Linked DNA regions of Homo sapiens: region 2 is linked to region 1. Evidence: fine-mapped expression QTL. A gene starts in region 1. The other region holds a variant in brackets. All regions are shown on one strand. Distances are between the middles of the regions. Region 1 holds the start of INTS10 (integrator complex subunit 10). Region 2 holds the start of LOC124901901 (a long non-coding RNA gene).

The links. PIP is the estimated chance that this variant, and not a neighbour inherited with it, causes the effect.
Region 2: its variant is fine-mapped to the expression of INTS10 in monocytes after interferon gamma (Fairfax 2014, PIP 0.95).

Annotation. Positions count from the first base shown.
Region 1 is chr8:19,813,659-19,821,946 of GRCh38, reverse strand. It overlaps INTS10 (integrator complex subunit 10), which reads right to left and starts at 4,531. Exons shown (of 17, transcript NM_018142.4): 1 at 4,281-4,531; 2 at 3,605-3,672; 3 at 2,271-2,374; 4 at 1,429-1,568. The coding sequence starts at 4,409. RefSeq lists enhancers at 3,591-3,680, 3,891-3,980, 4,481-4,540, 4,581-4,660 and silencers at 4,161-4,290, 4,811-4,950.
Region 2 is chr8:19,846,901-19,855,225 of GRCh38, reverse strand. INTS10 (integrator complex subunit 10) reads right to left here. Exons shown (of 17, transcript NM_018142.4): 17 at 3,159-3,577. The coding sequence ends at 3,421. LOC124901901 (a long non-coding RNA gene) reads right to left here and starts at 1,329. Exons shown (of 2, transcript XR_007060843.1): 1 at 113-1,329. The variant C/T (reference allele first, on the strand shown) is at 5,081.

The DNA of each region.
Region 1 (8,288 bases):
CCATTACCAATGCCTTAGCATAGTAGACGGTCCCTTACTCAAATCCACCAAGACACTGGTATCAACTTCCTTGTGACCACACAGGGATGCACCACAGGAGTGGAAAAGTGCGAAAGATTACATCACACAGAAGGTGAAAGGTCAGAGTTATGACCAGAAAGTGTGCTGGGCTGAACAGTGCCCCCCCAAATTCATATCCCCGCAGAACCTCAGAATGTGACCTCATAGACATCTTACCTTTTTTTTTAAAAAAAGTATCTTTGTAGATATAATTAATTAAGATGAGGTCATGGTGGATTAGAAAGGCCCTCAATCCAATGACTAGTGTCCTTATAACATGGCCATGTACACACACCTGTAATCCCAGCTACTCAGGAGGCTGTGGCATGAGAATTGGTAGAACCCAGGAGGCAGAGGATGCAGTGAGCCAAGATCATGCCACTGCACTGCTGCCTGGGCAACGGAGCAAGACTCTGCCTCAAAAAACAACGACAAAAAAGGCCATGTAAAGACAAAGGCACAAAAGAAAGAAGATCATGTGGTGATGGAGCAGAAATTGGAGGAGTGATGAAGCTGCCTGCCAGGGAATGCCAAAGATTGCTGACAACCATCAGAAGCCAGGGAGAGGTAAAGAAAGATTCTTCCCCAGAACCTTCAGAGGGAAAGTGCCTCTGCCAACACCTGACTTTTAGACTTCTAGCTTCCAGAATTGTGGGAGTCCTTCTGTTGTTTTAAGCTACCCAGTTTGTAGTACTTTGTTATGGCAACCCTAGGAGACTAACACAAGCAGGTATGGAAATGATTAACCCGGGCCAGACGCCAGAAAATGGCATGGGAAATAAGCCGCAGAGTATGAACGAATGGAGTGAATGGTTTGAAACCTGACACCTCACTGGCTATGGGAAGTTACTAAAACACAAAATGCTCAGTTTCGTCATCTGTAAAGTGGGATACTATTTACTTCAGGGGATTTAGGAAGATAGGAGATACCTAGCACTTTCCCATGCCTGCCAATAGCACTCGATAATTATTACAGATGAAGGAAAGGGGCAGGAATAGAATGAAAATAGTCTCCATAGGGCAGAAGCACAGGAAAAACGCATCTGTTAAGACTATAAACTCTACGCTAAATTCAAAAGCACATTGTAGAATACAACGGAAAAAGATTACTTTTTACCATATGGATTGCAATAAACAGTACTGTCAGAGCTTGGTGATTTTCCTGATAAAACAGCTTCTCCTGGAAACTTACAAAATATGGTGAAAAGAATGTCCTTTTAGCTTTACTAACAAAGAACCTTCTATTTCAGTTCAATCTTAACCAGTACTCTTCAGAAACTTCTGCTTTGTAGCTCCTCACCATACCGATGAATCTGTTGATGACCCATTGTATTTTATATTAAAAGAAGGGGAAGAATCAAATCTCACCCCATGCTGCACCACCGTTTCAGGGAAGCGCCTCAAAAGTAGAAGCAACATTTCTGATCGTTCTAACGTGTTGAAGCATTGTTCCGTGACCTTTAGTAACATTTCACACTGGACCCGACCAGGAAGAGTTTCAAATAAACCTGTACGAAACATATTTCACTTTTAAAAGTTTCTTGCGGACAGAAAAGACTGCAGCAACAGTGCTGAGTAAGGCATTTTCATGTACAGAACAGTAAACACTACATGTGAAATCAATGCAGTTAAGTTTCACCTACAACCTGGCAGCCTTTTGGAGCCAATAGTATCTGGCACAGGATGTTTGCTGAATAATGGTAAAATATTTGCAAGACTGATCAAATTCAAAAAACAATGATGTATGTGAATGGTCACAAGAATGCCTGTTGCAGGTTGAGATAGAGAGCATGTGCTTGTTGAAGTTCAAATGACCTATGCATCTACTTGCTATTTTATCTAGAGTTTGAAATCTTTGATTGACTACAGCAACATACAGAAGTTTAAAGAGAAAGCTTCTAAATTACTAAAAGCTTCTCTCCTGTTTTGTGGAGAGCTGGTTAATCTATAGCTGCTATCTGGTTATTGTAAAACCTGTTAAAAATATATACAATTAATTCCTCGTCTCACTGATAAATCCATATCCTTTAAAGAAGCTTAAAGGGTTCTAAGCAAGTCAAGGAACCGAGTGACATTATTATAGACTTTGGTTGCCAAGAATAAAACATACATATGGTTACCAATACCCCAGGTGTGACTTTTTTGTGTGTGAAATTACTATATATGATTTGGTATTCCCGAAATGGTAACTTATACACCATTATTCTTACTTCTTAAAAATTGGGTTTGTTTGTCCTGTGAATCGTTCCTTAATGCTGATGTAATAATGCTGATTTCTCTCCACACCACCGGCTGGTCTGGGAAATTCACAAACCTATTTTTAAAATAAATACATTAAATTAAAATGTCAAAGTCTATACAGTATCCAAAAGAAAAAACGTTAGCATTTGGTGAAAAAGTTTCCTTTATTCCAAGTGAATGCTTAGACGTGCCAAAACAAACCAAAATAAAAATGTAAAAATAAGAATTACTTGATTTATAAAAATGAGAGTACTCACATAAGTCTTTAGTGGGTTTTATAGGTGAAAAGACAAGTAACCATAACATAGAAAGAGCTTCTAAAAGTCAACAAGAATAAAACAAACTATTTGAAAGAAAAAATAGGCAAAGGCAAATCACAGAATACACACAGCCAAAGAGAACAGTTGAAACAATACTGAATCTTATTAACAGTATGAGTAGTACAAATTTTTTTTTAAAATAGCAAGATACCATTTTCTCCTATCACAGTGACAAGAACTAAAAAGAGACTAATAATATCCAGTGTTGGGAAGGGTATGGGAAAACACACTCTTTATACACCATTGGTGGTAATGTAGACTGGGATCGCACATTTTGGAGAGTAATTTCATAGCGTATCAAATTTTCAAATGCGCATAAACTTTGACTATGAAAATGTCTTAGAATCTATTCCACAGAAAAACACCAAAATATGACTACAAAATTGTTGACACACTGAATATAATTTCAAATAATTTAAAACTATCTATTTAAATGTCTACCAAGAAGAGAGTGTCTACGAAATACTACACAGGCATGAAAAGGAATGAAGTGGATCTCTACATACTGATATGGGAAGGGGTCCATGAGAGTGAGTAAAGGAAACATGCTGCAGGGCAAAGGTAGTATGGTCTTCTCACTTTTGTAACCCCTTCCCCCCAAAACCTTATTTATGTATTATGCATACATGTATAGATATACTGCCTACAAAACTTAACTCTGGTTCAGTTTAGGATGCACTTTCACTTTTTGTTCTCTATAACAAGTAGTGTTTGAATTTTTGTAATGAGCACATATTATTTCTAGAATAAATTATGAAACAGAAGTTTTAACAAGGATAAAACATAAGAATAATAATTAAACTCTTCTGCAAAAGCCATGTCAGCAATTTATGGCAGGCCTGGACTCCTTACTAGGTTTGCTTTAGGTATCGAAGATATAGATGAACTTGAAGATCTTCCCCCAACTCCCACTTCTGCAGAGAGAAACAAAACCTCATGGAGAGATTCAGTGCAGTAAAAGTGATGTCAAGCGTCCCACTCACATGTCGTACAGCAGCCTCCCGGCGGTGGCGGTCCGCTCTGCATTCCGCTCGATGGTGTACATCTCATACTGCAACACACATCAGGCACCCTGGTCACTCACCCCTGCCCAGAAGGCTCCCAGCTCATCCAGCATCGCTCGTTGGCCCTCCTGCAGGAAGGGAGGGCCTGAGAGTGAAGCTCCGCCTGGTGACACAGCGCCACATACATGGCAGACTTGCCATTGGGCTTAGAGTGTGACCCTGGGGTTCACCTGCAATCTCAGGCTCCCAGGATTAAGTAGGATAATATTTCCAAAGTCGCAGGCCCTGAACAAACTGCTGCCATTATGATGAATGAAGGAGCGAATGGCCTTTTGCTAGTGGCGATCATGTGCTGTCTAGGCCAGATGGCACGCTGAGCCCCAGGGACCTAAGCACACCCGACCTCAAGCGGGATCGGCCGTCTCTCAAGTGCTGGGGAGAGGGCTCCTGGAAGGTGTAGGAGCAAGGCGGGTGAAAGGTGTAGGAGCAAGGTGTAGGATGGGAGGGGAGAGAGGAGGGGGTGGGAGGGGAGAAAGCAGGGGGCCGGGCAGGAGGCGGCAGCCCCCAGGCAGGCGCAGCTCTGGGCCAGGGCAGCCCGGGCGACGGGAGCGCGCACCTCCACGCAGAGCGGCCGCATGCACAGCCGGGACCTCACCTGGATGTTAAAGTCTGCCGGGTAGAGGCTGCGGGCCGTGATCAGCCACGCCTTGGCTGCCCACAGGTCTTGCGGCACCAACTCCCGGGCTCGCTGCACCAGGAACTCGCAGTCCCCCTGGGCAGACATGACCCGAGCGCTCTCCAGCCGCCAGCCCGAAGCGGCCGGAACGTCCGGCTCTGGACTCTCAGCCGCCACGGCAGCCACCGCCGCCGCCGCCGCCACCGCGGGGGAGGCTACTGCGCATGTCTGGAGGCGCACGGAGGCTGGCAGAGTGGATCGGGAAAGCTTTTCCGGGTTTTGCGAGCAGTCTCCTCCCCTTGGCTCCTCGTTACCGCCCGGTCCCCTCCTCTTCTGAGAAGCCAGAGCAGTTGAACCGCTTCCAGGTCACCTCGAAAATGCGGAGAAGTGGATTTTCATTCCTGCGGGCTGCAGCGTGACCTTGGTGAAGTCAGGGAGCATGCGCGGGAGCGGGCAGGCGCCAGGCCTCTTCGCCATTTCCATCCTCTCTGGGTATTGCTCAGTTTGTCGGGGGCGGGGGCGGAGGCGGGGGCGGGGAGACGGGCGGTCCCGGGGAATGGGCGGTCCCTGGGCGTCCCCCCGGCGTGGAAGGTTGAGAAGAAGTTTGAGAGGAACAGCAGAGGGTCGGGGAGGCGGCGGGAAGCACTCTCCACCCGGGCCGGCCTGAAACACCTTCCCCGGGGGCCGCTGCCTGCGACTCACTCCCCGGGCTTCGATTTACGCGAAAACTCCTGGGGCTGGTGGGGGTGATCGTGCAAAGCGTGAGCTCCGGGGTTCCTTCTCTTTCCGAAATCCGTCCACGTTTTATTATTTCACCTTTATGCACCGGTTTCTCCAACAAACGTTTATTGAGCAACGAAGTACTTGGAAAGCGCTTTGGTGGATGCCGTCCGTGGGAGCTGCAAAGATGACTAAAACCCTGACCCAGCAAGGGTTTTATATGTTTTAAATGTTCTGGACGTGAAACCCACAGAAAGATAACTACGCTATTATTATAATTATCTCCTCCAGCCACAATCAATGTCCTTTTCACCAAAACTCCAGATTTGTTTTCCATCTAAGAGATGAAAAACATCTAGGAGATTCTCCATCTAAGAGATTCTCTTGCCTCAGCCTCTCGAGTGGCTGGGATTACAGGCGTCCACCACGACGCGCTAGCCCGGCCAATTTTTGTATTTTTAGTAGAGACGGGGTTTCACCATGTTGGCCAGGCTGGTCTGGAACTCCCGACCCCAGGTGATCCGCCCTCCTTCGCCTCCCAAAAGTGCTGAAATTACAGGCATGAGCCACCGTGCTGGGCTTCGAAGCACTGTTTAATATCTCCTACTTATGCACAGAACAGCATAACTGTATGATTACTTTATGGGCCAGGATTACTCAGTGATACAGTTATTTTGGGTTTGTAGAATAGAAGATGGTAGAAAATTGGATTTAAACGGAGTAGGATAATTTTTATGTTATAAAGTGTACAGCATAAAAGCAGATTGCTAGCTTGAATTGTTAAAATTATTTCATTGATGTTAATATATGAAGTGTAAGAATTTTCAAATGGTAAAAATGACTGATTTGGTCATTAAACTTTCTGGTTTTGGTCTTTACCAAAAATAAAAAAACAACTCCACACTTGTTCCTGAGCCTAGTGTTCTGTGGAATAACAATTGTAAATTAAGATTTTAAATTTAGAGGCTAAATAAGGAAATTCTGTTTTTGTTTGTTTGTTTGTTTTTGAGACACAGTCTTGCTCTGAAATCCAGACTGCCAGTGAGTGCAGCAGCTCGATCATGGATCACTGCAGCCTTGACCTCCCAGGCTCAAGCCATCCTCCTGTCTCAGCCTGTGGAGTAGCTGGGACTACAGGTGTGTGCCACCACATCTGGCTAATTTTAAATTTTTTTGTAGAGACACAGTCTCCCTATGTTGCTCAGGCAGTTCTTGAACTCCTGGGCTCAAGTGATCCTCCTGCTTCAGCCTCCCAAAGTGCTCGGATTACAGGCATGAGCCATTGCGCCCAGCCTCTGTATGTATTTTAGATGCCAACCTTGAGAGGGCCTCTAGACTTTTTGCCAGAATACAACGTAAGGTTTGTGGTTATTTTCTAGTCAGCTTCTTGATTTTGAATGGTCCCCAGCTAAACATTTCTCCTACAGTGTTATGCTGGCATCTCAAAGTACAGAAGGGAGGTAACACACCAAGTGAGTTTACATCTTTTGGCCTCCTTGCCATGATCTTGACTCACTGGAGACTTGAGGCGCCTAGCTCATGTTCTTCTCCATGACAACTTTTTTTTTTTTTTTTTTAAAGACGAGTTTTGCTCTTATTGTCCAGGCTAGAGTGCAGTGGCACAATCTCAGCTCACTGCAACCTCTGCCTTCCGGTTTCGAGTGATTCTACTGCCTCAGCATCCCAAGTCGCTGAGATTACAGGCGCCAGCCACCATGCCCAGCTAATTTTTTTTTTGTATTTTCAGTAGAGACGGGGTTTCACCATGTTGATCACGCTGGTCTTGAACTGCTGACCTCGTGATCCACCCACCTCGGCCTTCCAAAGTGCTGGGATTACAGGTGTGAACCACCACGCCGGCCCTTGACAACTTCTAAGTCACATAAAATGCCCTGCATCCAGCACCCGGCTTCAATTTCCGTGAGCTCAGTTCAGTGATCTGAATTAAACTCTACATTGCTTTTCCCCTTCCACTTCAAAATCTTCAAACTCCAAGTTTCCTCACATAACCTCTTAACTTCCCTGCCCTCAACTCTCTCCTTGGTTCTTTTTAATAATTTCCTCCTTTCCCTTCTCCCTGATTTTACCTTCATGGGCCTCTATCCCCTTGACACCTACATTTTCCCCTAAGTGCATCTGCCACCCTTTGGGCTTATTCCTCTCCCACTCATGCTAAACCCTGTGCTCAGACATTCAATATGTTCATGTCTTTGCCTTCTTATCCTGCCACTGTATCCACTATTTTTTTTTTTTTTTTTGAGACAGAGTCTTGCTCTCTCGTCCAGGCTGGAGTGCTGTGGCGCAATCTCAGCTTACTGCAACCTCCTCATCCTCGGTTCAAGTCATTCTTGTGCCTCAGCCTACCGAGTAGCTGAGATTACAGGCACAAGCCACCACACACGGCTAATTATTGTGTTTTTAGTACAGACAAGTTTTCGCCATGTTGGCCAGGCTGGTCTCAAACTCCTGGCCTCAAGCCATCCACCCTCCTCAGCATCCCAAACTGCTGGCATTACGGGTATGACCCACCGCACCCGGCCCTTAAACTCCAAGTTTGAATACCACAGCCCTATTTATCTTTCAAGACTGTACATCTGGTCATATATGTGTTTTTGTTTTGTTTTGCGTTGTGTTGTTTTTAAACAGTGTCTTTCTCTGTCACTCAGGCTGGAGTGCAGTGGCACGATCATGGCTCACTGCAGCTTCAACTTCCAGGCCCAAGCAATCCTCCCAGCTTAGCCTCCCAAGTAGCTGGGACTACAGGCGTGTGCCACCACACTTGGCTAATTTTTTAATTTTTTGTAGCAATAGGGTCTGATAATATTGCCTAGGTTGGTCTTGAACTCCTAAGCTCAAGCAATCCTCCTGCATAGGCCTCCCAAAGTGATGGGATTACAGGTATGAGCCAGCACAATGGGCCCAGATAAGTATTCTTTTTTTTTTTTTTTTTTTTTTTTTTTTGAGAGGGAGTCTCGCTCTGTCACCCAGGCTGGAGTGCAGTGGCATGACCTCAGCTCACTGCAACCTCTGCCTCCCAGGCTCAAGTGATTCTTCTGGCTCAACCTCCCGAGTATCTGGGACTACAGCCTTGCGCCAACACACCGGGCTAATTTTTGAATTTTAGTAGAGACAGAGTTTCACCATGATGGACAGGCTGCTCTGGAACTGCTGACCTCAAGTGATGCGCTCACCTCAGCCTCCCGAAGTGCTGGGATTACAGGCATGAGCTAACACGCCTGGCCTGTATATGTATTCTTAAAAACCCTT
Region 2 (8,325 bases), 33 kb before region 1:
TACCCATCCATCTCTGCTATCCCCACCGCTCCCCAACTTTGTCCCAGCCCAGGGTGCATCCTGGCAGGGTGGCGAGGAGGCGGGGCATTGAGTCGGGTTGCCAGGAGGGTACCTGATCACTGCCGCCCCACAGTGTGGCTCCGGGTCCGAAGTCCTAGGGATCGAGAGGGATGGATGCATAGATGCTTGGAGCCTCCATATGGGTGGACAAACCCTGGTGTCCAGGACTGACTTTCAATGGATTGCAGCGAGGGAGCTGTTCTGCTGCTTAGGAAACCCAGAGGCAGGTCTTACTAGCATCATTTTCCCCAGGAACCTGCATTTGGTGACGAGTGAGGGGCAGGTGTCTCTTTCTGGCAGTTCCCCTTTTCCCAGGAGGGACTCTACATCCAGATGGACCTAAGCGTAGGAGGAGGATGCTGTGCACGCAGGGTGCACCCCGCTGCCAGGTGAGGGGAATGTCTGGGACGAGATATCCAAGGTCAGTCAAGCCTCCTATGCACCGCTGTATCTTCTGCCTGCCTTAAGGTCATCCCGATGGTAGCTTTGCCTCATTCGTTACTCAGACAAGCAGACACCAAAAGCCTGAGCCTGCAGTTCCTTTGTTAGGGAGCAGGATTGCCATGGCAACAGTACATCTCCTGTAGGAGTCTAAATGTTACAGTGGTCCAAACCCAGCTCAAATGTTCCCTGTCACAGGGACTGGGAGCAAGAGTTGATTCCCTGAATGGATTTCAAAAAGCCAGCTCTTGGGTTCTTGAGAAAACAGCTCTGGGGGGTCACTTTGCATCTCAAAGGGCAAAGGATGTGTAATTGCAACCTTTTTAAAGTAACTATTCTAAGCGAGAGTCCAGGGGCCTATCTGCCTATCACCTGGTTTGGTCTGGAATAAATTTTGGTAGCATGGAGCTTTCTCAGGCAGGCATTTTAAGCGGGACTGGGGTCATGGCCTTAAGCTGCTGGTAGCCAAGCTAGAGTTTGGTCAGGTCTCTTAGTGCAGCGATTTGGATGGAGCCATTATGTGCTGAGAGGTCTGCAGTTTTCTCCCAGCTCCTTCTTTTTCTGCAAATTCAGTCTGAGTTTCCATTTTATTCTGTGGCCCTTTCCCTGCAGCCTCTTCACAGAGAAGTGGCACCACTGAATTTTAAAAAAGATGGTTAATCCTCTTTTAGCTAGTACCTACATTTTGGGGTATTAGAAAGTCTTGTTGTGATGTGCACTGCTCCTGAAACACTGAGCTGAGGAAGCTGTTCGTGATGGTTAATATTAGGTGTCAACTTGATTGCATTGAAGGATGCCTAGATAGCTGGTATTGTTTCTGGGTGTGTCTGTGAGGCTTTTGCCAGAGGAGATTAACATTTGAGTCAATGGATCGGGAGAGAAAGACCCACCCTCAAGCTGGGTAGACACCAGCGAGGGTAGAACAAAGTAGGCGGAAGGTGGGATAAGCTGACTTGCTGAGTCTTCTGGCTTTCATCTTTCTCCCGTGCTGGATGCTTCCTGCCTTTGGACATCAGACTCCAGGTTCTTTGGCCTTTGGACTCTTGGACTTACACCAGTGGTTGGTCATGGGCTCTCGGGCCTTTGGCCACAGACTGAAGGATGCACTGTTGGCCTCCCTGCTTTTGAGGCTTTTGGACTTGGACTGAGCCACTGTGGGCTTCCTTCTTCCTTGGCTCGCAGACGGCCTGCTGTGGAGCTTCACCTTCTGATCATGTCAGCTAATTCTCCTTAACAAACTCCCTTTCATATATACATCTATCCAATAGTTCGGTCCCTCTGAAGAACCCTAATAGTGTTAGAAAACCTAAAGGTGAGAGTGTTTAATTTGGGAGCTTTTAGGTGGCAGCACATCCCATCACTAAAAAAAGGATAGCTTATATATTTGTAATAAACTCATATTACACTAATAAACACTGCAAAACAAGCTAGTTGATATTTTTGAGATCAGATGTCTCTTATTTAAACCATCTTATTGATTTTAATATAGCTATAAAAAGGATCTTTATTTAGAAAAGATTTCTAAGACCTTTTATGCAGAGTAACTGCAAAACTTCTTAGCTCTTTCATTCTTAAATACTCCCTTGAAACAAATTTTATTGATGTTTGTCTTCTGTATAATTTCATGAAGAGCAAAAGGAAAATAAAATTAGCCTAATTAAAAAAAAAAATTAGCCTAATAGCTAATGTTGGCCAGCACTAACTACACTCAAGGCCCTCTCCCAAGCATTTCACGTGGAGCAACATTTCATCCTCCCAATAACCAGCAAGGGGAGGACCACTCAGCTCCGTTTTCAGACAAAGAGCTTGAGGCACACAGAAGTTACCTTGTCCACGGTCACATAGCAAGTAAGGGCAGGGCAAAGCCAGGATGCAAAGCCACACAAGGCCACCTGGCTCCAAAGCCCCTGGGTAGAAACCACTGGGCCACCCTGGCACAGCAGCAGGGACTTCCTGGAGCCAGACAGCAATGGGGAGGCTGCTCTGCCACACCTTGCCTCTCACCTCCACTTCCTGTCCTGGGCTTTTCAGCAGCCCTGAGCACCTCTCCTTCAGGGGACCATCAGTGGGAGAGGTCAGGCTCAAATTCATTTTTACATAAATGTTTTTGGTGTTAAAACTTCCCGAATGAGGCCAGGTATGGTGGCTCATGCCTGTTATACCAACACTTTGGGAGGCTGAGGTGGGATTGCTGGAGGCCAGATGTTTGAGACCCACCTGAGTAACATAGTGAGACCCTGTCTCTACATAAAATTAAAAAAAAATAGCTGAGCATGGTGGTGTATACTTGTAGTCCCAGCTACTTGGGAGGTTGGAGGCAGGAGGATTGCTTGAGGCCAGGAGTTTGAGGCTGCAGTGAGTTATGATCGTGCCACTGCACTCTAACCTGGGTGTAGAGTGAGACCTTGTTTCTAAAAAAGAGATCACCTGAATGAAAACGTCTAATATTATGTTGATATGCAATACCGACCAAAGCCTAACTATGGAAAATAAAATCTTAAGGTCATGGAAGACATATGTCTTTTAAGTAAGTATCTATATTAGTAAAATTCATTACTCAATTCAATTATGCTGGATTTTCCCCCTTGCTATATGCTTAGAAAAGAAGAAAAATGCACCCCTGTTCAAAAACTCATAAGAATTAAATTTTTAAAAACTTCAAATTTTAGGATGATTTTTATTTACAAAACAGATTGGTACTTTTGTTTTACAAAAATTACAAAAAATGACTCTTAAAAATAGAAATAGCTTCTCAGACTCTTGGGAACTACTTTTAAGCAACCAAGGAGTTAGAACTCAGATGGTTTTCTTCTTTGTAACAGCAACAATGACCACGGCTCTGTGCCATGGCAATCACTGCTGAGTGTCTTCTCCTACAATTACACAGGCCCGAGCTGTGTCTGGTGGAAAGGTCTCCACTCAGGTCAGAGTCTGAAGGAGCAAGATCTTCTCATTAATGCAGAACCTGTGCAGAACCACCATCAGATTCTCTCCACAGCGGGAGACCTGGCGCTCCATGGCCAGGCGAAAGTCCTCCTTCACGCCTTTGGTGATGCCTCGAGTTACAGTGTGGTGCCTGAGGTCAGCAATAGGGAAACAGACAAAGACCAGGGGTTAGCACCAGCATCGCTGATCGCTGCTACTTGGGTAGGAATAAAGCCTGCCCCATATCTAAGTATAATTTCAGATATTTTAAAAAGAACACAAGAATAGCTGCAACCAACCAAACATTCCAGCCCATTTCTCTTCAGAAAGACTTAAAACTAGACAGACATCTTTCTCACTCTATAAAAGGTTACTTCAAACATTTAATTGTTCAGTAAAATGCCACCTGCTTTGCCTTTGAATCAATGAAGCTCTGGTGTTATGCATCCCTACTGCTGACTGGTACACAATTCAGTTACTTAGGGCCAAATGGGTCCAGTCCACACTGGCTACAAAGAGCTCATGTCCAGCCCGGCCAGCAGACCCTCCAGAGGCAGCAGCAAGGAGGGAGGAGACCTGAATGAGCCAATCACCCAAGTGAGCTCCCACCATGGCCCCCGCAGCTGGTGCTCCCAGAAAGGTTCAGGGCTCCTGCACAGCCGGGGTCACAAGCACGTCTCTCTCCCCAGGACACCAGAATAGGGCAGCTCCTCTAAATGCTGTGCCCATCTAGACTCTCATATGTTGAAGAAAACGCAGCGGGAGGTGGGGTCCTGACACAAGAATGTGGCACAGGTCAGGAGAGAGAGGCAGAATCTCTGAGGGGCAGAGGGAGTGGACTGCGTGGTCCTGCGCTGTCTGGGCACTCAGGGGAGACCTGCACATGTGTGGAAGGGGTGGTGGGGACACAGGGAAAAATGTCTCTTAACTACACCCCAAAGGTTGTGCTTTAGAAAAAGAAATCACACATGAAATCCCAGGAAACGGAAGAAACAAAATGAAGAAACGAAAAGAAAAATCTAGCAAAAATCAGTCAGCTCAGTTAAGAGGAAGGGAGTTTTACCTACTAGTTCAGCAATTTGGTAGACTTAGACAAATAAAAGTCACCTCTGTTTCCCACCCTGATGCCTAATTTCCCTCACACAAAGTTATAAGGATTGAAAATGAAGATTTTTTTATGTTCTGGGCAAGATAAAAGTGTTAAAATTACTCTAAAATGTTTCTGTTTTTAAAAACTTGTATTAATGATCATATCAAATAAGGACAACAGGAGTCACCAAATTGTAAAACAACAGATGAAAAGAAAAAAAAAATCCAGCTTTGTTAGATAAGTAAAGCTATCACAGAACCTTCTAATGCCCATGGATGTTTTAAAGAACTACAGGGGAAAACAGCAGGGCCGTGGGGTAAATGCACACTTCTTTGTGACTATCTCTCGTCAAATCTGGATGGGTAGCTCAGTAGTTAGGACATAGCATCGGTGAGGTCCCGCTAGGATAGATGCAAACCATTTATGCTGCCCTGAGATACTGCTCTTCTGGGTCCCAGGCTGCAGCCTCAAACTGGAGCTGACCCTCTGACCAAGCGGAGGTTACTGGCACTTGCAGACAGTTAGCTAAAGGGCAAACCCTCCTTTTTTTTTCTTTCTTTCTTT[C/T]TTTTTTTTTTTTTGAGATGGCATCTTGCTATCTTGCTGTGTCACCCAGGCTGAAGTGCAGTGGCAATGATCTCAGCTCACTGCCACCTCTGCCTCCTGGGTTCAAGCAATTCTTGTGCCTCAGCCTCCCGAGTAGCTGGGATTACAGGCATATGCCACCAGGCCTGGCTAATAAACCCTGCTTTTAATACCACTAAAAATATAACTAAATGCTACATCCTGCAGATCAGGGTCCAATTTGTATTATCTCCATATATAAAGAGTGGCACAATTCAATTATATTTCTATTAGAAGCACTATCACTTTGGTAAGTTTGGATGAAAAAGAGAATTAGTAAGCTTTTGTGGTTTAAGAACAGGATAAACCAGCTAATAAATGTGGCATTTTAGCCTATCAAATATTTTCAATTCAGAAAGGTAAGGTCTGAAAAAACATCAGTAGCAGGAAAAAAAACACATTAGTGCCTATTTAGATACCAGGCAACTAATTGCTAATATGACCATAATGACTGGTCACTCATATGAGTATCCACAAATAAAAATGTACTTAAAATAAACGTCAGCATCCTTAAATATATATGACCGAAAGCCTTAACGTTTTATCAAAAGAGAATCATGGTGCACCTAAGCTAATGTGCACTTAATTGAATACAGATTTATATAGCTTTCATTGTTTTTTCCAGATCCATAATGATTTTTAAATCGAACACAAACACACTGGCAACTTATGGAAAAAAAATAAGAAATGTTACAATATTACAACCAGATGGTTTGCCAAAATGCGGAACAAATTAAAAAAGAAAGAAAGCATGAAAAAGAGCACTGAGGAACGAAGAGCTGAGAACCATGGGCAGCGAACATGTTGACAAACAGCACACTATGAGCGGGCGTTGATTCCACTTGGTACCTGTCAGCAGTCTGTATGCTGGGCTGAAGCACAGGTAAGAATTCCTGCTGCAGTAACCCCATGGGAGGGCTAGAAGGCCTTTAAAAAACAGCAAACAGCAGCATTCAAACACCCACACCGACTCACCCTGCACTGCAAAAACAACACTCCAGAGAAAATACACAAGACTAGAAGCAGACTAAACAGAAACTCATTAACCTCAACAAGCCCCTGGCCGTGGCTGGGTGTTTAAGGAGACTGGGGAGAAGCTAGCCAGCCCTCACTGCACCCGCTGCTGCTGGTGCGTGTCCAGAGGCGTCTCAGTTCCTGGTCCCAGAGCTCAGCCCCCTTTTGAGGTGGTATAAAAAGCGACCAGTGAGGAAGAGGATGATGGAATGCAGCTGAATGGCAATAGGGAGTAGGGGCAGCCTTTGAGAAGACACATTTTCAAAGCCAGCCTCTTTACTTTCCACTCTTCTCACGGTACACCAGTCCCAGCATTCAACCTGGTGATGTCTGGTAACCATCTTTAACAGGACTGAAGCCCCACCGGAGAGGCCCTTCCAAGAGGACTAAATGGTCTGGCAATGTTTTTGATTTAAAAAAAGGGTGAGTTTCAATTTCAAAAACGTATTGAGAACAGATGGGGGAAAATAAGAGTCCGGGACCCATGGCTGTGCAGAATTCTGTAACAACAAAGATTTAGTGTATTAGCTGGTGATCACCTCATAGAACATTATTATCCACCCTATTCAGAGTATAAGTAGGACATTGTTTTCCATTTTAATCCACTCTAATACAACTAAGATACTGCATTTATCAGCACAGAAACATTTCTCTATTTTAAAATACTTAAGAGCAAAAGGTCTGTATAACAGATTAAGAGCTTCTCCCTCCTTTGAGTGAAGCACCGGGTGCCCTCAGTGTTGGTACTGTACCTGCTTGCATCCCAGATGCCACAGCTAGGGCAGACTCACAGCCTTACCCCCGGGGAGAAGTGTACACTGCTCACAACATCTCTGCCACTCATCTGGAGGGACCACCCAAAAGGTCTGTAATGGCTTCAGAAAACTTGTTTGGAACCCAAAGGGAAAAGGAATTCAGATTGTTTAATAAAGATTCCAACCATTCCTCAGTTAGGAAGAGCTCTCTGGCTTAAGCAGTGTGCTTTCTACCATGTTAATTTAGGCATAAGTAATTAACCTTGAGATTCACACAGTGAAGACTGGGCAAATCCCTACGAGGTCAGATCACTAAGGAATAATCCCTATTCCTGCTTCCAAACTGATGAAACTGCAGCCTTCCTAAGAGGCTTGTCTTCTATAGAAAGTTAGAAGAAATTAAGGGTTGTATTGATCAAGGTGGGAGACCCTGGAGTTCTCCCTCACTAGTTAGAAGTGCATGATGGGTATCCTTTACACAAACAACTCCAAACACTCTTCCCTGTGATACTAGCTGGTACCCAACACTCCCCTTGCTCTCATTCCTCATCCTAGGGTTTGTCCACTTGGACTTATGTCACTCTTCAGCTCAGTAAAAACTGGTAGAAGAAGAAAGGTTCAGTACAATGAAGTCTGAGGTTCAACTGTTGATTTTTTGACAATCCATCTCTCACACCTGCACTAACAGTTAGGCATTATCTAGGTAAAGTGATAATCATCTGCAGGTTTAATCCTATGTACACAGACTTCGGTTCCACTATGGCTGTCTCTATATTAACTCGTATAGTGACTGCTGATGGGAATTAACTAAAAAGCTTGATTCAGGGTGTATTTGTATATCCAGTTTCAAAGTCTAGAAAACAAATCACAATACAAAAGGGGTTACCTGGGCTTCCGTATCCAAAGGTAATCTTTATCCCCAAACACTGTTAAGAATATTTTGAACAACATAGTTATTCTTCCCAAAGTTTCGATTCACGATCTTAGAAAAGTAAATGGGGATTGGAAGATGCCAGTCCTTGTCCATCCTGCTTAAGCAAACCAATGCAGAAAGGTCTCGTGTATTTTTAAAAAGAGCACTGTTCTTTTATTTTAAAAGTTTATAATTTAATAACACTTATAAGATGAAGGAGAAAAAACCACTTAATCTTTCCATTCTTGAGAATGGAGTCCACAAGACCCTATTCTTGCTAGACACAAAAAGAAATGTTTGCTACCAGCAAACTACTGAGGTTACAGAAATCTAAAATGAACATTTCTTACTTCTTTCCCTAGGCACTTCTAAGACTATCAAGATAGAACAAGATGTGGATTTTTGCTTTCAACCACTGAAAACTAGTTTATTCCACAACTGAGGGAAAAAGAAAAATGTTTTTAGTTTTAGCAGTACTTTCTTCTCATTCAGGATTCAGTCTCTTG